Regions from separate parts of the Homo sapiens genome. Here regions 2, 3, 4 and 5 are each linked to region 1. The links come from fine-mapping of genetic effects on gene expression. A gene starts in region 1. Each other region holds a variant in brackets. All regions are shown on one strand. Distances are between the middles of the regions.

The links. PIP is the estimated chance that this variant, and not a neighbour inherited with it, causes the effect.
Region 2: its variant is the best candidate, but not a certain one, in a credible set for the expression of CHAC2 in T cells (TOPMed, PIP 0.68).
Region 3: its variant is the best candidate, but not a certain one, in a credible set for the expression of CHAC2 in whole blood (TOPMed, PIP 0.50).
Region 4: its variant is the best candidate, but not a certain one, in a credible set for the expression of CHAC2 in whole blood (INTERVAL, PIP 0.61).
Region 5: its variant is the best candidate, but not a certain one, in a credible set for the expression of CHAC2 in monocytes (BLUEPRINT, PIP 0.66).

The regions. Positions count from the first base shown.
Region 1 is chr2:53,765,153-53,770,259 of GRCh38, reverse strand. CHAC2 (ChaC glutathione specific gamma-glutamylcyclotransferase 2) reads right to left here and starts at 2,456. Exons shown (of 3, transcript NM_001008708.4): 1 at 2,239-2,456. The coding sequence starts at 2,373. It overlaps ASB3 (ankyrin repeat and SOCS box containing 3), which reads left to right. Exons shown (of 10, transcript NM_016115.5): 2 at 4,675-4,883. The coding sequence starts at 4,688. GPR75-ASB3 (GPR75-ASB3 readthrough) reads left to right here. Exons shown (of 10, transcript NM_001164165.2): 2 at 4,675-4,883. RefSeq lists enhancers at 1,925-2,114, 2,135-2,484.
Region 2 is chr2:54,164,453-54,169,559 of GRCh38, reverse strand. The region is part of intron 3 of ACYP2 (acylphosphatase 2); the gene reads right to left. It also overlaps the pseudogene RNU7-172P. Among named protein-coding and RNA genes, the nearest start is that of ACYP2, 51 kb to the right of the region's middle. The variant A/T (reference allele first, on the strand shown) is at 2,193.
Region 3 is chr2:53,735,891-53,740,997 of GRCh38, reverse strand. The region is part of intron 3 of ASB3 (ankyrin repeat and SOCS box containing 3); the gene reads left to right. The region is part of intron 3 of GPR75-ASB3 (GPR75-ASB3 readthrough); the gene reads left to right. Among named protein-coding and RNA genes, the nearest start is that of CHAC2, 29 kb to the left of the region's middle. The variant C/G (reference allele first, on the strand shown) is at 2,528.
Region 4 is chr2:54,025,300-54,030,406 of GRCh38, reverse strand. It overlaps a transcript of ACYP2 not described here and the pseudogene RPL21P30. Among named protein-coding and RNA genes, the nearest start is that of PSME4, 57 kb to the right of the region's middle. The variant AG/G (reference allele first, on the strand shown) is at 2,569.
Region 5 is chr2:53,898,182-53,903,288 of GRCh38, reverse strand. PSME4 (proteasome activator subunit 4) reads left to right here. Exons shown (of 47, transcript NM_014614.3): 28 at 1,730-1,939; 29 at 3,272-3,408; 30 at 4,935-4,988. Among named protein-coding and RNA genes, the nearest start is that of GPR75-ASB3, 41 kb to the right of the region's middle. The variant G/TG (reference allele first, on the strand shown) is at 2,890.

The DNA of each region.
Region 1 (5,107 bases):
TCTCATTTAATTTTCCTGTTAGTCTTCTCATACATTTTAATAGTTGCATAATATTGTGTCATTGATGAACTATAAACGTTCCTGTGTTCTTGGACATTTAGATTTCTGACTTGTTTTCTTTTTAAGATGATGCTACAATGAGGATATATATATATTGGTGAGGGTCAAGTAGATAATGCCATATTATTTTCAATTTCAAAGTGAATTAGAAGTTATTTATGCATAGCTACTGTGTGCTGTGGAGAAGATGAAATCTTGATTCTTGGTTCCAGTAGCTTATATTGTCATTCTAGAATGCAAACTAACATGTGAAATAAATAGAGCTAAGATATGGGCTAAGATGTATGGTATTAAGTGCAGTTAGAATTCTGAGTCTTAGGTGATCAGAAAGACACCTTTTTTTAGCTCTTTTTTTTTGAGACGGAATTTCACTCTTGTTGCTCAGGCTGGAGTGCAGTGGCGCAATCTCAGCTCACCGCAACGTCTGCCTCCCAAGCGATTCTCCTGCCTCAGCCTCCAGAGTAGCTGGGACTCTACTGGCGTGCGCCACCACGCCCAGCTAATTTTGTATTTTTAGTAGACAGGGGGTTTCTCCATGTTGGTCAGGCTGGTGTTGAACTCCCGACCTCAGGTGATCCACCCGCCTAGGCCTCCTAAAGTGCTGGGATTATAGGCGGGAACCACCACGCCTGGCCAGCCCCTTTCTCCTTTTAAAGAATCACGGACTGTTGTGTTGACTAGGCAATTTCTAATCATCAGTCTATTCTGACAGCATACATATCTCAATGTGTTTTGTAACACACTGTACATTTTCGTCAAGACTAGTAAAGTATGTTGTTATAGCCACATACATAAATATTTAATACTTGGTCATTATAATTGGAGCCTGGGCTAAAGGTTTTCTTTTCGGAATGGCAATTTTAAATATTCATATCAAAACTGACAACTCTCAAACTCCTGGCCTCAAGCAGTCCTCCTGGCTCAAACTTCCGAAGTGTTGGGATCAGAGGCGTGAGCTACCGGGCCCAGCCAAAACTGACAACTCAGAAGCCATTTAATTTAGCTTAGTTCTTTAATGTCTTGAATATTGTTCTAGAACATTCTTGGAGATACTTTGGCCATGACATTTCTGTTGATCTGTAAATGTGCATTTATCCTAAGCCATTGCCCCTTTTCAGGTCACTGTGTCCAACATCCCAATAGGCCAGTATAGTCTACTTAAAAGCCAAGTTCTTAACTGACCAACTCTAGTTGAGATAGAATGGTTTCTAATTCAGGTTCTTTTCGTGATTTTAATCCCATGTCTCTCTTATGAGCAGGTGCAAACTACTTTAGCGCCTTGATCTTTTCCACTTTCCATTGACCAATTTCCAAATTATTAGTTACCTCAATCTTAGTTTTCTTTATGGATTAGTTGTTTTGTAGCCAGTACAAAGCTGATTTGCATAAGCAGTGAGCTGCTGCTAATTCTCTATACATATATTGAGATTAATGTCTTTGTAGGACTGACTGAAAAGTGAATCAATGAACTTACATTTCATATTATAATTATGAGAACCATCAAGAAAGTAACATTAAAATAATGCTGGATATAGTAATGAGTTTGGTACTATGTTATTCATATAACCAGAACTTCATTTAACTTCACTAGTACTGAAAACCAAAGTGAGTTCCTTAATAACCAGCGAAAATTTTGGAAACTCATTCTGCAATCCTGTGTGTCAGAAAATAAAACTTTTGAAAGATGTAAAGAAATCCTAGAAGTAACATGCACGTTTAATCGCAAGCTCATGAAAGTCGGCTAGAATGCAGAAATGCCAACAAATTTAATTGCTAAAAAGCTGAATTTGCAACTTGATTTACTATTTCAACTCTGTGGTGACATGAGCATTCATCTTCCCGCCAATGGGACTTTTTTTCTTTTGGCAGAGGTTGCAGAGAGATGGAGTCCCCATCTCCGCACTCAGCCTGGTGCGAGCTCGTGCGCCTGTGCCCGCGCTTCTCGCCGTCTCTAGAGACTAACCACCGGCATCTTAAGCAGCTTCGGAAGGAGTGCCCGGGCTGGGTTAGAGATGGCGGGCAGGTGGCAGGGAAAATCTACAGAAATGTTACCCCAAGCCATGTGCTTTGGCCCCATGAAGCGCTAAGGTGTGGTTCTCTAGGGTGTGGGTGCTGTGTGTGGAGTTGGGGAGCAGGGGTCAGGGGGCAGTAAGTGTGGGGAGCTGACCGGCGCCTCACCTTGCCGGGGACCCCGCGGTGGTCCGTGCTGCCCTGCCAGAAGCGCCTGCTGTAGTTGGTGATGTATCCGACCAGCTTGTCCTGATAGGGGAAATCCACCTTCCAGATCAGGGACCCGTAACCAAAAACCCACATCTTCTCGCGGCTCCTCTGCCCCAGTGGCCGTGAACCCTAGCTGTCGCCGCGCCGCCGGGGACTGAAGCCTCCGGTAAGCGAGTAACCGGCCGCGCGGGGCGCAGGCGCGATGGCCACTTGGGGCGCAAAGCGCACTGGGAGTTTAGATCCAGAAAGATTTTCCGAGCGGATCTCAGTCAGCTTTATTTTATTTCCTTGATTAGGGTGTCAAGAGGCATTGACCTTCGGTGTAGTAAGCAATGGATTCTTTTGCAGCATCCGTAAATCACCCTAACCTACCTTTAGTGCCCGTGTGCAGAAAACTACAATACCCACAATGCTTTTTGGAGCTATTTGGCTCTGAAATTGGAACTGGGCTTATTTCTAACGGGGCCGAGGAAGGAGAAAAGAGCAGGAGTCGTCACTCGTGTCCAGATACGGAGGCGGTGTACCAGCACCGCAGGTAGCAAAGCACCTAGAAACACGTTTTGTTCTGCTTTGGAAATTAGATTTTTGCCTATATAACAGCAGCCAGAGGAATGTAATTCATATTTGATTTTATGTCCTGAAAAAAAAGTCTTTTGCCTTTCAAATAAAAGCAGAAAGTTTACAATAGAAGTTTACGCTTGTGAAAGAGTAGCTGTCATTTCAATGGGAATTGTTTATATATTTAAATTTTACACAAATTTATTCATCTTTAGTATTATCATTGGCTTGTTCACAAAAGAGCAGGCAAATGTTCTTAACTTGGGGCCCCTGTAAAGGCTTTGGAAACGAGCTGGGGAACCTGAATTTGTATACAAAATTTGGGGTGTACACTTTTCTAGGGGGAAACTACAGCTTTCATGAGTTTCTCCAAGGGGTCAAGGATCCTAAAATTTTTTGAAGATCTGCTCATTAGAGCTCTTGCTGCAAAATATTGTTTAGGAAATTCGCTTGGACTATCATGGCTGTGTCTCTGTGTGTGAAAACAGAAACCTTACCAAGTGATTGTTCTTTCTTGAAGATTTTTATACCATGATCTTGAATGCTAAAACACTCAGATTCAAGGGGTATTATTTGTTTTCTTATAAAGAAATCAGCAGGAAGCTGCTACCAGACAAACAAACAAAAAAAAAAGCAAGTCTTTTCCTATTTTCTCTAAGTTGTGGTTTCAAATTGCCTGATATGGTTGCTAACCCTTCTTTTTTGAAAAATTTTGAATACACAGAAAACTCAGATAAAAAGAGTGTAATGACCAATACCTTTCATCTAGATCCAGTAATTACCATTTTGCACAGTTGCTGTACTTCCTTTTTACTTTATTTATACTTTTAAATGGAGAACATTTGAAGTTGCTTGTGTTATGACATTTTACTGCCACATACTCTACATGTGTCTCATAAGAATAAGGACATTCATCCTAGAACAAGTTCCCTAAAAAAAAAGAATAAGGGCATTCTCCTAATAACTGTGATGCCATTATCACATCTGAGAAAATTAACAATAGTTATGTAATCAAATAAGTATTCCATATCCAAACTGCTTCATAGAGTCACTAACAAGAAATTGTGTCTTCGAGAGAGTCACATGAGAGCTATACTGGACTCTGACTGGAGGGGAACTTGAAGTGAGCATTGGAGGGAGGTGATGATGTGGGCAAGAACTCTGTTAAGAACTTTCTGGGCTATGTAGGAAAACCGGGCTCATCTCTTCATGGTGTTCTCTGTTGGTTTCAGTATGCTCAGTCAGTGGGTCTATTTGGTCAAGCATAGAGAATCTGAGTGTTTAACCTCTTCTGGAAAGGACAAGCAGGTGCAGGAAGACTAGAATGACACCTATCTTTCACTGCTTTTCTGGCCTCTTTGGGTTTAGTTGTTTCCTATAGAGGGCTGTATATTGAGGCTGAGCATTGCTGGTAGTTGAATGGCCATCTCTGCATAATGTAGTGTACACTGGGGATTAAGCAGAGGTGCTCTTATCAATGGAGCACCAAAGAGGGTGCTCTTATCAATGGAGCACCAAAGAATGCGTTGTGGTGGGGTATGAACAGGAGCAGAAGCCTACTCCTCAAACATTTCCAGAGGAGGAAAGATAGAACACTTAAAAGTCCCTTCATGTTTTTAGTGGGAACCTTCCAAGGAATTCCAATCTGCCAAACAGAGAAACTTCCTGCTTTAGGCACCAGCAGAGACTGTGGCATGGCAGTCACTTTCTGTATTGTGGGCCCTTCTTCGTCAGTCATGTGAGAGATACTAGACAGGCCCACCGTGATTTGCTGACCTCTAGGAGTGAAGTGTTGTTTTATTGACTATAGTATTATCCTTCTACCTTGTTTTGTAGACTGGTCAAACAAATGGATTTTACAGAGGCTTACGCGGACACGTGCTCTACAGTTGGACTTGCTGCCAGGGAAGGCAATGTTAAAGTCTTAAGGAAACTGCTCAAAAAGGGCCGAAGTGTCGATGTTGCTGATAACAGGGGATGGATGCCAATTCATGAAGCAGCTTATCACAACTCTGTAGAATGTTTGCAAATGTTAATTAATGCAGGTAAAGTAAATTCAAGGTATGGAGGCTTTGCCTACAAGCTGGATTAATAAAACATAAAAAAGTATAATACATAACTTATTAACAGTAGTATTTGTTTCCCTTTCTATAGTCATAAAATAACTGCCTGAATTTATTTATTAAGGATAGTAAGATTGCCTGCCTTGGATTCAATTAGTATGATACTCTAGTTGGACATCTTATACGGAAGTGCCTCTGTCTGGCCT
Region 2 (5,107 bases), 400 kb before region 1:
ATCATGCCTGTAATCTCAGCACTTTGGGAACCCAAGGCAGGAGGGTTGCATGAGGCCATCATGGCCAACATAGCAAGACCTATTCTCTCTTAAAAAAAAAAATTCTAGAGGCTGAGGATTGTTTATCACATTTTTTGATGTAGGATCCAAACGAAGGTGAGCATGTGTGTATTTATTTCAGTAATGTCCATAAATTTGAAACTGAAGTCAAAGGGGGATAGGGGAGGCTCTCATGGGTGTGCTCCAAGCATCAAAGAAACAGATCAAAATCAGACAGACCTAACAAAGAGGAACAACACACCAGGACCCAAGAACGCAAGCATGCAACTCCAATGGCACCACACATGCTAATTAGCCCTGGAAGATTCACTGCTGAAACTATCTACTGGAGTCATCAGAAAAAGGCCAACCTCTGCTAAATAGCTTCCATTCTGTGGGGAAAAAGGTAAGCGATAAGTCTAACATACTTTAGAAAGAATAGCGTTCAAAATTATTTAGGTAGAAAAATTCTTCTGTAACACTCCTGATTGGTTCTTTGGACAGGAAAACCAAGCTTTACAAATCCCAACAGGTTTAAAGGAAAATGACGCCAAAAATAAAGCTTTGGCTCATCTTACCAGTGTTTCACCTCAGTTGTCTATTTTATAGGCCATTTAAGTGAAAGCATGCACTAAAAATTTTGACTTTGTCATCCTCAGCTATCCAGAAAATGGCAATGCTTAAAATTCTATTTCTAATACAATTACAATTAATGTGTTATCTATAATACACCCTCTACAGTCTTCCTGTTTTATCATCCATTTTACATTTTCCCAAGAGATACTGTATGTTCATTTTCACTGCTCTTTCTCTTTTTAAAATTCATTGGGTTTCTTTAATTCAATGATTACTATATCTATTTTAAAATAACTCAGCTGATATATAACAATAATGGCTCTACTACACCTGTCTAAATATTATCCCCGTAATGTATCTGAAATTATATTAGTAACACTTCTCTTGGTAATATCCAATTACTTTTTATGGTTTCTAACTCACGGTTCATGTGGCTTTTTTCCTTTATTGGACATTTGGATGTAGCAGATTATTTTATTATTTTATTTTATTCTATTCTATTTTATTTTGTTTGGTTTTGAGACGGAGTCTGCTTCTGTGGCCCAGGCTGGAGTGCAATGTCGTGATCTCTGCTCACTGCAACCTCTGCTTCCCGGTTTCAGTGATTCTCCTCCCTCAGCCTCCCAAGTAGCTGGGATTACAGGCATGTACCACCACGCCTGGGTGATTTTTTTATTTTTTTAGTAGAGACGTGGTTTCACCATGTTGGCCAGGCTGGTCTTGAACTCCTGACCTCAAGTGATCTGCTCACCTCAACCTACCAAAGTGCTGGGATTACAGGTGTGAGCCACTGTGCCTGGCCTGGACACAGCAGATTTGACACAGTGGTTTTGTCTGAAGACAATGGAAAAAGTGAATATTTTGACAAAACAGTTTTGAGAAATGTACATCAAAATATAGAAGCAATTTTTATAAAAAATGACAGTAATAATTGGGATGGAGAAATGGGATGGAATGAGGCTCTGGGGTGGCACTGGGCCCAAGAACAGGATGAAGACTTCTGTCTTTCATATTATGTGGTAATTTTTTAAAACTGGCTTATTATTTAGAACTTATCAAAATATTCCAAACTCAAAACAATTCCATCACAGACTGATAAACAATTAGCCATTCTCTCTGAACCTCTTTAGATATCTCCTACACAACTCTCTTCCCTCTGAATTATTGTTTATAAAAGCCCAAAGTATTTAAATAAAATTATGGATATCATAACATTTCACCCAAATACTTCAGTATACAGCTATAAAAAATAAAGACACTTTCCTACATAACCATGATGATATCACACATAACAAATATAATACTAATTCCTTAACGTTCTTTCATACCCAGGCCATATTCAAATGCCTCAGTAGTTCCTCCCCCAAATGTCTCTTACAGCAAATTTATCCAAATCAGAAAAAAAAATCTGTATCTATATAACATTTGTGATACAAATATAGAAAAATACTACAACTGTGAAATCTAAATGTGGGTATTACGCTATTCTCTGTCTTTTCTCTGGATTTGAGATTTTTTGTAATACAGTGTCCAAAAGATTGCCACCATTATATCTTTTCAGATATGATTATAAATGT[A/T]TCAGAGGAGAGTGTTGTCTAGACTGTGCTACTGGGCCCTGTGCTGTTCAAAGCTGTCCTCAATTATTTGGACAATGATATAGAAATGATCCTTATCAAATTTCTCAGTTGATGAGCTAGGAGAAACAATGAACATGTTAGATAACTGAATCAAGATCCAAAAACACTTTGACAAACTAAATATAGCAGACTGCTGAGGAAATGAGTGGTGATACACTGGGTGCTTTTTTTGTTCAGTAAGAGCTGGAGGCAAAAGGTCACAGGTCGATAGATGCCGTCATGAGGAAGGGTCCTATGGATTACCAGTAGCTTTGGTGATGGCCAGATCAAATGGAATTGCCTGAAGCATTAAAAAAAAAAAAAAGTTACAGCTTTTTCAGAATTTGTCCAGCAGGTTTTCTGGTTTTCACTGGAAAATACCTCACACAAAAAAAGAAAAATTAAAATAAATTTTAAGAGTCCTTTATCAAGAGGGCCTGCCTGCTGCCCTCCTGGCTTGTGAGCTGCATCTGTTAGCCTTGTGAGATGAGCATTGCCAGCGAACTGGGGTGGCAAATGTGAGACTAAGAAATGGAGGTGGGGGGCTTGGAAGGTGGGGATACAAAAGCCAAATTGCTATAGAATCTTGAAGTAAGTTTCCATCATTATGAGAAATCTTCAAGGTGAGTAGCAAGGTAGCCTAACCATCTTGGCATCGAACTCAAGCACTTGACTGGGTCCAAATTCAGAGATTATCTTATCCTGTGCTTGGCATATTTCACAAGGACAGATGTGTCAGCCAAACTGGAGATGTGGACATGATAATGAGCAATTTTTTTAAAGTCACAGTATCTGAATGTAGGTCGCCTTGGCATTGACAGGGCAAACAGGAGGATCTCAGTTTGTACAAAAGTTAAAATCCTTTATTCAGTCTCAAGAGTTTTCTGGATCAAATCCTCCATGTCTTACTTCATTCTGTATACACATTCTTCTGTGTCTACCCATCCATCTTTCCTCAAGTCCTTGAGGGCAGAGACTGTATTACTCATCTTTGTATCCACAGTTCCCAACACTCTGCCTGACATATAGCAGATACTTTATAATATTTGTGGAATGAATAAATGCTTGCCCAGAGGACACAGGTAATAATCAAATGCATCACCTCATGCTGTATCAAAGACTACATGGCCCTCTGGGTGCTCTCTGACAACACCATGGTCAAGTGGAGCGCACACACTTTGGTTTCCTTGACTGACTAACCAGGCAGTAATTGAGGCTGCACCTAGATAAGAGCATTAAGAATGAGGCACCACTAAGCCAATGGACCAGGGTCTGATATTGCTGGATGGTTGTTTAAACTGAATGTAAAACTTCAAACTTTTAGAATGCAGTGTCACATGTGTGTGTTTTGGTGGATTAAGGCAGTATGTTTTCTGCAACAAGTCAGGCTGAATAGCTCTGATTCAATATGCTTACATGGGTTTCTAGGACTTTTAGAGAGATAACCCTCTGTAAAATGGCCGGTAATCATTGATTTAAAATAGATATATATAAACTCCTTAGATTTCCGCCAGAAGATTCCTTCATCCAGAGTCCAAGATGCACTGACTTTCCCTTGGGGCAGGGGTAGGGAAGAAACTAACAGGAAGACTGGTTTGCTCTCCTGGCACCCAGTCTCCTCTCCAGTCTAAGGCACCAATGATCAGGTCAGATCAGCTCTGTGAACCATCTTAACATGGATGGGGCATCATATAGTATTGCCTTCAAGTGTACTTTCCTTTGCCTCAAGTCTTAGAAGACTTTGGTTGTCTCTAATGTGTGTGTGTGTGTGTGTGTGTGTGTGTGTGTGTGTGAGAGAGAGAGAGAGAGAGAGTGAAAGAGAGAGAGACAGAGAGAGACAGACACACACACAGAGAAAGAGAGAGACAGACAGACAGACAGACCAGATGACCTCTCAGGTCCCTTCTAGATCTAAAATTTTAAGACAATTGTTCTGAAAGTACTAACTAACAATGAATGGCCAGCTTTGGAATTTGTGACTAGCAGTATTCAAAACATATTCATGATTGCAGGAAATAAGGCAGAGGACCCTAAAAGGAGATACAAAACCAAAAAGGTAAATGTGAGTGAAATAATATATCAACTTCAAATCGTTAGCAAGGTAATGCCACTGAAATCAACTAGTCTATACAGTGTCTCCAAGATGGTTAGTTAGAAAATAAGGCTGTTTCACTACTTGCAATAGCAAAGACATGGAACCAACCCAAATGCCCATCAATAAGAGACTGGATAAAAAAAAATATAGCACATATACACCATTGAATACTATACAGCCATAAAAAGGAATGAGTTCATGTCCTTTGCAGGGACATGGATGAAGCTGGAAGCCATCATTCTCAGCAAACTAACACAGGAACAGAAAACTAAACATCCCAAGTTCTCACTCATAAGCGGGAGCTGAACAATGAGAACACATGACACAGGGAGGGGAACATCACACACCCAGGCCTGTCACGGGGGTGAGGGGCAAGAGGAGGGAGAGCATTAGGACAAATACCTAATGGCTGTGGGGCTTAAAAACTAGATGATAAGTTGATAGGTGCAGCAAACCACCATGGCACATGTATACCTATCTAAGAAACCTGCACGTTCTGCACATGTATCCCAGAACTAAAAACAAAAACATAACAAAACAAAAAAACGCTGTTTGCCACAAGAGGCACCTCAAAAGGACAAATGTGGTCCCAAACACCCCTGGTTTCCATTCATATGAATTAATTTTTCTTAACTTCTCATTAATCTGTTTATATTTTCAGTTTATATTGTCCCTTTGCCAGTTCTCTTCCTTACTGTATTTCCTGCAGTCTTCTCTCTTCCCTATGTACCCAGTGCCGGTGCCTACCAACAAGTGTTTCAGCCTCCAGTCTGTCATTTGA
Region 3 (5,107 bases), 29 kb after region 1:
AGTAGAATTACAGTGTTATAGCCCTAGAAGAAGGTGTAAGTTTAGGGATGTGTTATCTAAATCAAATGTTTCTTGACTCTGCTGCTGGGGAGACATACGGAAAAATAAACAATATATAATAGGATAGTGGAATTTTAGCTTTTTGTCTTTTAATACTTTCATTTGATTGAAGGATGTATTTTTCTGGATATGGTCTCTGATGTCTAATTGGCCATTAGACTTCTCCCTGTCTGTTAGAAACCATGAGAAATGTCAGTGATAACGTGGATGATTGGATTGGGATATTCGCCACAACGTTTTTGTTATATCCCTAACATAATGAGTTTTGCCCAGAAGATCATGGTTTTTCCCATCAGTATGCATCTTTAAGATTGTTAGCCACTGGGCAGACATGAAGAAATTTATAAAACAGAAATATAACTTTTTAGTATAATTTTTAAAAAATTCTGTATATCAATAAAATACTACATTTCAGACTAAAGATTTTAATAATTGTTCTGCTGCCTTGGGTATAAGTAAAGTGCTGGAAAAACATAAACTTGAGGATACATAGAATAAATGGACAACACTGGAAAAAAAAATTCCTTTGTCATAGCAATAATGGAGTTTCTTTTCTAGTGCCACCAGATGTCAGTATGAACACAGGACCAGAGAAATACTGCAGGAGATAAATGTTCTTACAAATGTTCCTTTTTTGGTTCATGAAAGAGGTGGGGGAAAAAAGTTTTACATAAACTAGCTATACAATGAAAAAATAATTTTACTGTTCAATTGTATAGAAAAATGAAATGCATAATGGAGAACAGAGTACATGTAGAACTCAAAAAAGTAGAGATACCATTAAAAATTCATATATAATTCAAATGTAAAATTGAATATATAGATGATTTCTGCATAGCCAGCCAGCCTGCTGCTATAACTGGAGGAGATGGACAGCCTGTGGTTAAACTTTTCGTTACAGACTTACTGACCATGTCATTTTTTAGAATTATTGTCAAAATCTGAGCCTCAAAATGAAAGACTAGGCTGGGTGTGGTGGCTTATGCCTATAATCTCAACATTTTGGGAGGCTGAAGTGGGAGGATCACTTGAGCCCATGAGTTCAAGACCAGCCTAGGCAACATAGCAAGACCTTGTCTCTACAAAAAATGGAAAATGAGCTGTGTGGGTGGTGCATGCCTGTAATCCCAGCTACTCATGAGGTTGAGGTGGGAGCATCGCTTGAGCCCAGGAAGTTGAGGCTGCAGTGAGCCGTGAATGTGCCACTGTCCTCCATCGTGGGTAACAGAGCCAGACCCTATCTTAAGAACAAAACAAAACAAACAAAAAAATGAAACAGTATATTTTCTAGCTAATAGAGATAAAACTCACTGTAATTTTCATTTGGTACAAAATTGTGTTTATAATTGTAATTTGTACAGAATTGTTATGGTAATTCCCTAGAACTCATAGTCACATTAAGCATTTTTCTAAAAGAGCATTCACTAAGATAATTACATTTAAAAAATGTCCCTTAAAAAAGCTTTTTCTTTAATGAATGCTATATTAAACAATGATCATTATTTACTATTTCTAGTTAGATTTAGTACTTACATGTATGTATAGGTCTACCATATTTCTCCCAGATGAGAGTCCCGTTTTGAGTTCTTGCTTTCATGAAATCTTCACATGGGGCTTTGCTTGTAACTGTACTCAATATGTTGCATGCCACAACTGAGTTGATTTTGGTCAAAAGTTTTGTGTGGGTCAAAGGCTGCTTCTAGTTTCTCAATTTCCTGTTTTCAAAAATATTTTGTTACCTAAGATATGTTTTTCCAGATTGCTTCATTTTTCCTCTAATTTAGGAAATGGAAAAAGGTGTTTTTTCAAAACCAGAAAATGTCTCCCTAGAAATTATTGCAGGATATGTTCTCATGCCATTTTTGCTTTCTTAAGCATTTACAATTAGAGATTTCTTCCATACTATGTTATATGATCCATTGTGGGAAAAGCAGTGTTCCTACCCTCAGAGGTTCTGGCTTTTCTCTTCTACCTGTTTGGAGTCTTACCTGTTTGGATTGAAGAGGGGAAAGTCTTTCTCCCATATCTCTGTGTACTCCAGACACTTGGAGCTCTGCCTTCTGAAATGCGGTCTTTTATTTCATCCTTAATCTTTTTCCTTGGTCTCTGGTCCCTATTGGATACCATTTTTTAATACCAGATACTATGATTCTGCTTTCTTTTTCTTTCTAGGAACCCACAGTACTTTTCTAGCTTCTAGAATTACACCTTATCTTTCTGTCTTTGACACTTACTCCAAGACCTGCAGCTGATCGCCTGGCTCTCTGTTTCCAATGCTAAATGGGTATCTTGAAGACAGGTATACCTAGTATTCTAGGTTAAATTTCAATTCAATTCAATTCTAATCTCTAGACCAGTCCTACCCAATAGAACTTGGAATTGTCCTATATCTACATTGTCCCTTATGATGGTCACTAGCCACATGGGGCTCTTGAACACTTGAAGTTTGTCTGGTTTGATTGAAGAA[C/G]TCAAATTTTAATTTTATTCCATTTTAATTAATTAAAATTAAAATTTAAACAGCCAAATGAAGCTTCTGTCTTCTATATTGGAGAACAGTTCTAGAGAGCAACAGAATGAGTGCAGTTCTTCATACATCCTTAACTGAACAGTAGTCCTGTTTTATTTTTGAAATATTTATCTCCTTTGCCCTAACATGTGGTCCTAGATGGGTCTCACATAAAAAGGCGAAGGAGCAAAGAAACACCAGCTTAGCCAACTAGTTTTGCTTATCAATAGGATGGTAAAAGTCACAACTGAATTTTTCTCATTATCCTCCATTGATTAGGTGATTATCAGGCCTCTACACTATCAGGCTTAGTTCCTGATATCATGGGCTTACAATTTAATTGAGGATATTATAATAACCAGAATTCAAGATAGGCTGTAATAAATACCATAAGAGGTACACAGTATATGAAGCTTAGTTCTGTCCTAATTACTGTGTTGTTATTCTGCTGTGGATTTATCTATTTCTTGTCTCTTCTCTCTCCCTGTTTCTTTAGGTTTTAAATCATTTTTCAATTAATATACACTTTAGTATTATTGAGTAAATAGGACAGTGTTCAGTTTGATTTTTATTCTGATGTGTTTTAAAAAATTCAGGGTATACTATATGCACATTAGGAATATTTTAGATATTCAAAGTGTTCTCGAAATTTTCGTTTTGAAATTCCCTTCAGAATTTGTGGCAGTCTTTTTTTTTTTTTTTTTTTTCCTTTTTTAAAACGTCCTGGACAATTTCACATACACAAAAGCTTGGAGACATCCTTCCCCTTCCTCTCACAAGTACCCAGGATTGATCTCCATTCTTTTGGAATAGTATGGTCTCATCACTCTGACTTAGCCAGAAGTCTTAGGAGTTCCATGGCCCCTCAGTAGTGTTTGACTTCTAATTATTTCTGTTCCATTCTTGACCCTTAAGCAGTTTTTATTTGCCTTACCTTGTACATGTGCAACCTACGCTTGAACCAAGGACCCTTGGGCAACTTCCACACAGAGGCCTCCTGTCTGCACAATTCACTCTTCTCTAGGGCCTTACCTGCAGATTTCAACCACTTAAATTCTAATCTCTGTCTCCTCAGTTTACTACTGCACTTGAGCCTCTTTCCTCTGGTTGGAGTACACCTTTCCCAACCTTACTGTTGCTCTACTTGGACTTCAGCTCACTGTACCGTAACGGGGAAATGTCCCCAGGTACAGAGCTGGGGTGATCATGGGCTCATCTCTTGTGTTTCACTTCTCTCGGGAATCACAGTTGTCTGCCTGTTGATTAATACCCGAGTAAGTTACCTTATATATTTTGTCCACTCTTATGATTGTTTTGGATGGATGGCTAGTTTAGTACCAGTTATACTGTCATATCCCAAAGTATAATTCTGAAGCTTATTCAATTTGGCGAGGGAATCTTAAAAAGAGAAATCAATATCTTCTTTTAGACATATTTTTTTCTTTTTTGAGACAGAGTCTTGCTCTGTTGCCTAGGCTGGAGTGCTGTTGCATGATCTCGGCTCACTGCAACCTCCGCTTCCTGGGTTGAAGTGATTCTTGTGCCTCAGTGTACTTGGGACTACAGGCATGCACCACCACACCTGGCTAATTTTGTATTTTAATAGAGACTGGGTTTAAACATGTTGGTCAGGAATTCCTGACCTCAGGTGATCTGCTCACCTTGGTCTCCCAAAGTGCTGGGGTTACAGGTATGAGCCACTGTGCCCTACTCAATTTTTTTTTTTTTTTTCTGAGATGGAATCTCACTCTGTCGCCCAGGCTGGAGTGTAGTGGCGCGATTTCGGCTCACTGCAAGCTCCGCCTCCTGGGTTCACACCATTCTCCTGCCTCGGCCTCCCAAGTAGTTGGGACTACAGGCGCCCGCCAACATGCCTGGCTAATATTTTTGTATTTTTAGTAGAGACAGGGTTTCACCGTGTTAGCCAGGATGGTCTCGATTTCCTGACCTCGCGATCCGCCTGCCTCGGCCTCCCAAAGTGCTGGGATTACAGGCGTGAGCCACCGCACCTGGCCTCCAATTTTAAGGTTATTAATTTATGTCACCACCACCTGGATATGATAGTTCCACTTTTACCACATCCCTGCCGGATACTTACTCTGTGTTTCATTTTAAATATTCTGGTGGGTGGTGTTGTGGGTGCTCACTGAGGTTTTCATTTGCATTTCCCTAATGGAATGACAAGAAGGTGAGTACTTTTCCATGTATTTTATTAGCTATTTGCATATCCTCCTTTGTGAAGTTCCTGCACAAATTTTCTCATGTTTTAAAAATAATTTATCTTTTTATTGATTTAAGGAGTTCTTAATTTTAACGTGGTCCAATTTATCACTATTTACCTTTATGTTTATTGCTTTTAATATGAAGATTAAAAATTATTTTTCTATTCCAAGATCAGTTTGTAGATTTTTCCTTTCTTTTTTTTTTTTTTTTAGAAGGTTTGTTGTTTCTAAATCCAATCTGGAATTTAATTCGCAATCCATCTGAAATTGGGTATTGTGTGGGACAGGGGTGAAGATTTTTTTCCCCATATGGATATTC
Region 4 (5,107 bases), 260 kb before region 1:
TATGGTCAGTAGGAGCCTTGCATGGGCTTCTCCCTAACCTGGAGCAAACCAAAATAATAGAGACAGTCATACATTCCTTGTGCCAGGAGTCGACGAAATCTGAGACGAGTCAAGGTAACAGAGGCAGCTGTTTGAATAGATTCATTGGAGAGTCTAAGGCAGCTCGCCAGGCCAAGCCGTAAAGGAGATAAGATAGAAATAATCACTCCAGTATCACAGTAGACAGGCCTTGAAGGTCCTGGGGCCCCCACAGTTTAATCAGACTTAGCAAGCATTTTTTTGCCTCCGACCTTCTAATTGAAACAAAATTAGCTACCAATAGACTTAGGTGAATATTAGACTGGTCTTGGGCTCATAACCTCAACCTACATAAGCACTAAGAAAATTGTAACACTTTGAATTGGTCTGGTGGAATTATCTCGGGCCTTCTCCCTGTATCTGGTTACAGCAATAAATTCCCTTCTTTCCTAGTTTGTCTGCTTCTCATTATTGGCGGGCCTCGAGAAAACACAGCCGGACCCGGCTTGGTTCTGGGAACAAATCTGTAAGAAAGGTGATATTGTAGACATCAAGGGAGTGGGCACTGTTCAAATAGGAATGCCCCCCAAGTGTCACCATGGCTAAACTGGAAGAGCCTACAATGTTCCCCAGCATGCTGTTGGCATTGTTGTAAACAAACAAGTTAAGGGCAAGATTCCTGCCAAGAGAATTAACGTGGGTATTAAGCACTTTAAGCACTCTACAAGCTAAGAGAATTTCCTGAAACGCATGAAGGAAAATGATCAGAAAAAGAAGGAAGCCAAAGAGAAAGTTACCTGGATTCAACTGAAGCACCAGTCAGCTCCACCCAGAGAAGACAATGTGAGAGAACCAATGGGAAGGAGCCTGAGTTGCTGGAACCACTTCCCTATGAATTCATGCATAATACATATATACACATATATGTGTGTGTACATATACATATATACATATGTGTGTATATATATGTATATATATGACCTCTGGACGGAAAAAAAAAGTAATAAAATGTAAGAAACCTGGTAAATATGACCTCAGGTAGGTCATCAAGGTAAACATCAACAGTGAGAGGTTATGCTGGTAGTATGTACCCTTGATATGTGTGATGAAAATGGTACTCCACCGCTGTAGTTTTTGTAGGAGTGAAGGGAAAACTTCCTCTTCACCCTCTGAAGGTTCACTGAAAAATCAACTGACAAAGGGCAGATTTTTTTTTCTTTTCCTGAGACAGGATTTCCCTCTGTCACCTAGGCTAGAGTACAGTGGTGTCATCATGGCTTACTGCAGCCTCAGCTTTCCAGGCTGAAGCCATGCTCCTACCTCGGCCTCCTGAGTAGCTGGGGACCACAGGCAACACCACCATACCTGGCTAATTTTTAAAATATATATATTTTGTAGAGATGAGGTCTCACTATCTTACCCAAAGTGGTCTCAAACTGCTGAGCTCAATGATCCTCCAGCCACCAGTTCTCAAAATTCTGGGATTACAGAAGTAAACCACTGTGCCGAGCAAGATTAATAGGGGAAATGGTGTGCAAATTTATTAACGTGTGCAGGGAAGAACCACAGAGCGTTTCCCAACTATGCAATGAACTACAGATGGTTATATGCCCTTCTTTTTAGGGGAAAGGGAGATGGGGAAGAGTGGATGATTTTAGGAGAGTAGTAAATGGTATTTAGGGGAATTCAATGGGACCGAAGAACATACAATGGCCTGGGACAAAGTCTATTGGATCTGCTGAGAAAACAATGGTTTGTGACAAAAGTCTGTCCATCCAGGTGTGTTGACAGACTTCAGTCTTTCTTCCTGTGATTTGAGTTCAGTTAATAAAAACTCAGAGAAGGTACCAGAAATAACTATTTTCTTCTTTGGTGGGTCTGGACTTTAAGTAGATGAGGGAACTTCAGAGAACATCATCCCATGTTTACAGAGAGAAAAATAAGATTGAGAGCCAGGAGGCTGAGGGGAATTGCCGGGAAAGTCAGAGAGACCTTGAGGCTTTTTCTTCAATTCAGCATGTCAGAATGCCATATTTTGGAGTATTGGTTTCTGAGTCCCAACATTCTCGTCCCCTTAACCCATAAACCCAGTCTAATAATAAGAAAAACATTAGACAAATTCCAGTTGAAGAACATTCTACAAAATATCTGATGAGTAGTCTTCAAAACTATCAAGGTCATTAAAAACAAAAAAAGTCTGAGAAATTGCCATAGCCAAGAGTAGCCCAAAGAAACATAATGACTAAGGCCAGGCACGGTGGCACATGCTTATAATCCCAGCACTTTGGGAGGCCAAGGTACGCAGATCACCTGAGCTCATGAGTTCGAGACCAGCCTGGTCAACATGGTGAAACCCTATCTCTACTAAAAATACAAAAATTAGCCGGGTGTGGTGGCAGGCACCTGTAACCCCAGCTACTTGGGAGGCTGAGGCAGGAGAATCACTTGAACCCGGGAGGTGGAGGTTGCAGCAGTGAGCTGAGATCGTGACACTGCACTCCAGCCTGGACAACAGTGTGAGACTCTGTCTCAAAAAAAAAAAAAAAAAAA[AG/G]AAAGAAAGAAAGAAACATGATGACTAAATATAATCTGATATCCTAGATGGGGTTCTGAAACAGAAAAAGACATTAGGTAAAACCTGAAGAAATCTGAATAAAGTATGGACTTTTATTCACAATAATGTATCAATATTGGTTCCTGAATTATAACAAATATACCAAGATGTAGAGAAGAACAGATTTCCTCACCCATTGCAAGGTTTATGGCTGAGACCTCTATAATAAAAGACAGATTAACAAGAGAAAAGCATAACAAAATTATTTAGTATAAGTTTTATGTGACATGAGAGCTTTCAGAAACGAGAAGACCCAGAAAAACTGTGTATTTTTATGATAGTCTGAAGTATGATTGGAAGACAAAAGGTATGATGGAATGGTAACAAACTGGGAGGAATTAGGCTCGTTTGTTCAGTTTCTTCTTGGCATCCCTGTTTGATATTTCTTCCCTGGGATACAGGGCAGGACAGCTGTTACATGACAGCCTTCTGGGGGAAAAGGAGGGAAAAGGCCAGAGAGTGACCCTCCAAGTTTTTATGGTCTGCTTCAGAGGAGAAAAAGGGTGAAGGCAATTCTAGTTTTTATGGCTTGCTTTAGGGGAGAAAGGCACAAGAGAAGGTCAAAGAGACCCTCCTGCTTCTGCTATCTTCTCAGTTTTCAAACTACCCTATTTCTGGACATTATGTTCTGAGCCCCAACAATGCTAATGTTAATAATAGAGGAAACTGGCTACAGGATATATGTGAACTCACTCTACTATCTTGGCAATTTTTCAGTAAACCTAAAACTGTTATTGGAGAACGGATAATGTTTGGTTACATGGTAAGTTCTTTAGTGGTGATTTCTGAGGTTTTGGCGCACACATCACCTAAGCAGTGTACACTGTACCCAGTGTGTAGTCTTTTATCCCTCGCTCCCCTCCCACCCTTCCCCCCAAGTCCCTAAAGTCCATTGTATCATTCTTATGCCTTTGCATCCTTATAACTTAGCTCCCATTTCTAAGTGAGAACATACGATGTTTGGTTTTCCTTTCCTGACCTACTTAATTTAAAATAATGGTCTTCAATTGTATCCAGGTTGCTGCAAATGCCATTATTTCATTTCCTTTTATGGCTGAGTAGAATTCTATGGTATAGATACATGACTCTTTTTATTCAGTCATTGATTGATGGGCATTTGGGCTGGTTCCATATTTTTGCAGTTGCGAATTGTGCTGCTATAAACAAGCATGTGCAAGTGTCTTTTTCATATAATGACTTATTTTCCTCTGGGTAGATACCCAGTAATGGGATTGCTGGATCAAATGGTAGATCTAATTTTAGTTCTTTAAGGAATCTCCATACTGTTTTCCATAGTAGTTGTACTAGTTTACATTCCCACCAGCAGTGTAAAAGTGTTCCCTTTTCACCACATTCATGCCAACATCTATTTTTTTTTTATTTTTTAATTATGGTTATTGTTGCTGGTATCATATTGTGGTTTTGATTTGCATTTCACCAATAATTAGTGATGTTGAGCATTTTTTCATGTTTGTTGGCCGTTTATATATCTTCTTTTGAGAACTGTCTATTCATGTCCTTAGCCCACTTTTTAATGGGATTGTTTTTTTCTTGCTAATTTGAGTTCCTTGTAGATTCTGGACATTAGTCCTTTGTAAGATGCATAGTTTGCAAAGATCTTCTCCCACACTGTGGATTGTCTATCTGTTTGTTTGTTTGTTGAGACAGAGTCTCGCTCTGCCACCCAGACTGGAGTGCAGTGGTGCGATCTCAGCTCACTGCAACCTCCACCTCCTGCATTCAAGTGATTCTCCTGCCTCACCCTCCCAAGTAGCTGGGACTACAGGCGCCTGCCATCACGCCTGGCTAATTTTTATATTTTTAATGGAGATGGGGTTTCACCATGTTGGCCAGGCTGCTCTCAAATTCCTGACCTCAGTCTCAAATTCCTGACCTCAGCCTCAAATTCCTGCCTCGGCCTCCCAAAGCGCTGGGATTACAGGCATGAGCCACCATGCCTAGTCAGGGTTGTCTGTTTACTCTGCTGATTATTTCTTTTGCTGTGCAGAAGCTTTTTAGTTTAATTAAGTCCCATCTATTTATCTTTGTTTTTGTTGCATTTGCATTTGGGTTCTTAGTCATGATGTCTTAGACTAAGTCGATGTCTCAGACTAAGACAATGTCTAGAAGAGTTTTTCTGATGTTATCTTTCAGAATTTTTATGGTTTCAGGTTGTATATTCAAGTCTTTGATCCATCTTGAGTTGATTTTTTTATAAGGTAAGAGATGAGAATCCAGTTTCATTGTTTTACATGTAGCTTACTAATTATCCCAGCACCATTTGTTGAATAGGATGTCCTTTCCCCACTTTATGTTTTTGTTTGCTGTGTTGAAGATCAGTTGGCTGTAAGTACTTGGCTTTCTAGGTTCTCTATTCTGTTCTGCTGGTCTATGTGCCTATTTTTATGCCAATACCATGCTGTTTTGGTGACTATAGCCTTATAGTATAGTTTAAAGTCAGGTAATGTGATGGCTCCT
Region 5 (5,107 bases), 130 kb before region 1:
GAGAGTAGTTAGATGATGACATAGTTAATTTGGACTAGTTTAATTTGAAGTGGTTCCAATGACCTAAGAGCACCATCAAGTGGGCAGTTAGACATCTGAGTCCGAAGATACCATTTCCATGTATGTTGATTATAATTGAAATCTATGGGCATGGATAAGAAAGCCTAGGAGGAGAATAAGAAGAGGACCAAGGGGCATATGTTGAGAAACTCCTTTAGAAGCCAAATAGAAGAGCTGAGTGACCCTGGAGAGGTCAGAAAGGTATCAAGAAATCGGGAAGAATCACAGAAGGCAGGGAGAGGTCTTTCTAGAAGGAAGACTCAGTGAGTAGAGTCATTGTTTTTTGGAGATAATGAAGACGAGCCCTAAACATCTTCCATGAAGCTTGTAAGACAGAGGTGTCAATAAACTATAGCTCAGGCTCAGTTGCTTGCTTTTGTAAAAGTAAAAGCTTGCTTTTTTAAAACTTCTTGAAACACAGCCATGTTCATTCATTTATATATTATGTATGGCTACTTTCACTCTACAGTGGCAGAGAAGAGTAGTTGAGACAGAGAGCAAATGGCTTTGCTGTTTGCTTTCTGGCCGTTTATGGAAAATGTTTGCTGACCCCTGGTGCAGATGTATAATTCAAGAGTGTTGTAGGTTTGACTCATTGACTATTCTGTTGTTGACCTTAATGAGAGCAGTTTAAATGGACAAAATTAGAGAGGTCAAGTACAATCAAAACAGAAAAATATCTATTAGATCAACAAAATCGAGGTTATGAGTGACCTTATAGAGAACCTGTAGAGGAGTGGAATACAAAGTCAGTAATAAGCTAGATTGGAATCAGGTGAGGTAAATTGGAAATCAAAAGTTTTGATAGTAAAAACTTTTTATGAAAAAGCACTTTAGAAAGGATACCTGCTGTCATCAAAGGATACCTGCTGTCATCAGAATCATTGTGGTTAATTGGACTTTTATGAGTAATAAATATGCAGTATACTTTAGTTTTTATGTACTTTGTAAATTACTCAGCAACCAGGTGTTAACTAATATTTAATAAATTATTTCAAACACCAAACTTCAGACTCTAAAATTTTAAGAGTGACACATGTTGTGGTTTTTATGATACAGTTGAAGAAAATCAGAATGGAATATATGTTCTTAGAAACATCCTTCCATTTCTTTATTACCTTATTAGTAGCCATTCTTTGAACAATTTCTTTTTTTCTTTTTGGAGACAGGGTCCTGCTGTGTCACCTAAGCTGGAGTACAGTGGCACAGGCATGGCTCATTGTAGCCTCAACCTCTTGGGCTTAAGTGATCCTCCCACCTCAGCCTCCTGAGGAGCTGGGACCACAGGTGTGTGCCACCATGCCCAGCTAATTTTTGTATTTTTTATAGAGAAGAGGTTTCACCATGTTGCCCAGGCTCTCAAACTCCTGAGCTCAACCAGTCTGCCTTATTTGGCCTCCCAAAATGCAAGAATTACAGGCGTGAGCCACCTCACCTGTCCCAAACTCTTTATTAAATGACTTAGAGAAAATATTAATGGATATCACCTAAATGTCAAGTTCAGATTTCTAAAAAGTAACATGTTAAATGTGTGAACATATTTTACTAACCAATATTAAGCATTTAAGTAATCAATACTCATTTAAAACCAATACATAGGTGCATTGGCTACAACTACATGATGCCTCTTATTTCCCATGTAAACATATATATATTTTTTTTTCTGCAGGGTGCCTTGTACTGTCTCCTTGGAAATCACAGTGGTGTGTGCTTGGCAAACCTTCATGATTGGGACTGTATTGTACAGACGTGGCCAGCGATTGTTTCTTCAGGGCTTAGCCAAGCAATGTCCCTGGAAAAGCCATCAATAGTGAGATTGTTTGATGATCTTGCAGAAAAGATTCATAGGCAGTATGAAACAATTGGCTTGGACTTCACAGTAAGCAATATCATTCTTTCATTCAAGTTTTAGTGTAAATCCTGTCTTGTTAAAATGCCCTTTATTTTTCTTGCCCTTTTTCCAGTAATAATATTCTTGGCATTTGAGTCCAGTGTTTTTTTAAAAAAGCGTTTGTTACCTGTTTGCTTTTTGTACTTTCATTGATCATTATTGTACATAACAGGGTGAAGTAGCAAGTTGGAGCATGGTAGGGAGACAGCCAGGGCTCCACAAAGGGTTATTGATTTGTTATATTTACCCTTATTTTGTGTGTGCCCACAGCTTCATTTTTCAAAGAGTTAATTATATTTTATGAGGTTTACCATGCTAGCCAAAGTCGCAAAAGATCGACTACTGGGTTCGTAATTTATAGTGAAGAAAACTAAAATTGAATGATTTGACTCGAAAGACTAAAGAATATAACTTTCAGTGGTGCTTAGGTTGAGAGTTATAGCAGATTTTCTAGGAACTTGCAAATCTGTATTTATACTCCCTCAGAACATGGGGGTGAGTAAAAGAAGGGTGAGCACAGCAGAATCACCCTCTTGGCTGGCGTGACTATGGTTGACATCTCTCCCCTGGTTTAAAAACCACTGTTCTAAATGTATTCCTTTTAAATCAAACATAGGGTTGCTATTTGCGACTGTCATTAGATTATACTTTATTTTTTAGAAGAAAAATTTTAATTGAGATGTAATTCACATATCATAAATATCACCCTTTTAATATGGACATGTTATATGCACAGTAGAATATTCACAGGGCTGTGTAACTACTCAAATTCCAGAACATTTTCCTTTTTCTTTGTTTCTCATTCTCATTCTGTCTCATTCTGTCCCCCAAGGCTAGAGTGCAGTGGCATAATCATCCCCTGCCTCAGCCTTCCTAGTAACTAGGACTATAGGTGTGCACCACTACACCCAGCTAATTTAAGTTGTTTTTTTTTTTTT[G/TG]AGAGAGAGACAGGGGTCTTGCTGTGTTCCCCGGGCTGGTCTCAAACTCATGGCCTCAAGCAGTCCCCTCACCTTGACCTCCCAAAGTGCTAGGATTACAGAGATGAGCCACCATGTCTGGCCTCCACAATGTTTTCATCACCCCAAAAGAAAACAAGTACCTAATAGCAGTCGCTTCCCATTCTTCCATACCCCAAACCCCTGGAAACCACTTTCTCTGTCAATAAATTTGCCCATTATTAGATATTTCATATAAATGGAATCGTAAAATATGTGGACTTTTGTGTCTGGCCTCTTTCACTTAGCATGACATTTTCAAGGTTCGTTCAGGTAGTATGCATCAGAACTTCATTTTTTTTCCTGCTTTTTTCTTTTTAACAAGATTCCAAAGTCATGTGTTGAAATAGCGGAATTACTTCAACAGTCAAAAAACCCCTCTATCAACCAGATATTGCTTAGCCCAGAAAAAATTAAGGAAGGAATTAAACGCCAACAGGAAAAGAATGCCGATGCCCTAAGGTAATTGATGAATGGTGTACTTCAATAGATGACATTATAGATAGTAAGTTTTGGCTTTTTTTTGAGACAGAGTCTTGCTCTGTTGCCCAGGCTGGAGTACAGTGAGACGATCATGGCTCACTGCAACCTTCACCTCCTGGGTTTAAGCTCTTCTCATGCGTCAGCCTCCCGAGTAGCTGAGATTACAGGCATGCACCACCACACCCAGCTAATTTTTGTATTTTTAGTAGAGACAGGGTTTTACCACATTGGCCAGGCGGGTCTCGAACTCCTGGCCTCAAGTGATCTGCCCACCTCGGGCTCCCAAAGTGCTGGGATTACAGGCATGAGCCACTGCGCCTGGCCGATAGTAAGTTTTTAACATCTCTAAAATATAGATGTATAACATAACTGCTTAATGATGTTTACACATTGACTTCTGAAAAAAATACAAAAAAGTTGAGAAGTAATTACTACACAGATTCCTGTTTTTCCTTTTTAAGCTATGGAGGTATAAAACACCATCTTAAAAATAAGGCCGAGCACGGTGGCTTATGCCTGTTATCCCAGCACTTTGGGAGGCTGAGGTGGGAAGATCACTTGAGCTAAGGAGTTCAAGACCAGCCTGGGCAACATGGTGAAACCCTGTCTATACAAAAAAAACAAAAATTTAGCCTGGCATGGTGGCACGCGCCTACAGTCCCAGCTACTCGGGAGGCTAAGGTGGGAGGATCGCTTGAACCTGGGAGGCAGAGGTTACAGTGAGCAGAGATCGTGCCCCTGCAGTTCAGCCTGGTAACAGAGCAAGACCCTGTCTCAAATAAACAAAACAAAAAGTTATTTCACTGTCCTATCTTTTTTTTTCTAGTGAATTATCTTTCTTTTTTTGTTTTTTTAAGGTAGTAATATTTCAGAAACTACATAACTGGTACACATCAGTCATTAATTCCTAAATTCAAGTTTAGCAGATGTATCATTTAATAGTTCTTATAATAGTAATAACTTATTGGTCAAATTTGGTATCAGGATTTTAATAAACTGTTTTTGGATTCTTGATACCAAAGCACTTAAATGCTTCACTGATAACACTCAAGCAAGAGTCTTCCTAACTTGATTTTGTCTTTGCCTTATAATTAGTATATGAATATACCTCTTTGTTGTTTTCTAAAATGTCTATAAATAATAAACTCTTATAGCCTACCTAATATATTTCAGAAACCTGGTGTATCGTGTGTGTGTGTGTGTGTGTGTGTGTGTGTGTGTGTGTGCCACTCCCAATTAATTGATTACTACTTACAGAGTTACTTGTGCATGTCCATTCAGGAAAAGTTGAGTTCACTCTTCCTAGCCTTTCATGAGCTTTTCCCAGCATCTCTGTTCACCTGTCTACTTTCATTCTGGCTTGCTTCTCATCAGGCCGTTTACAGTCAGGTGGTGGGAAGTAAGTGGGGAAGGAGGGTGAAATTGGCTAGAATTTGAATTTCTATTATATTTTTGATGTTCATTTTAGTATTATAGTAAAATAATACCTCACCTTTTTTTTAAAGGAACTATGAAAATTTGGTAGACACCTTGCTAGATGGTGTGGAGCAAAGAAACCTGTAAGTGCAAAAGATTTTTGTAATTCTCACAGCATTTTTCATAAATACTATAGGAGTTTTCTACATGGAAGGCTATGAATGACTATGTCACAAAAAGTTATATTCCGGTTTGTGTATTT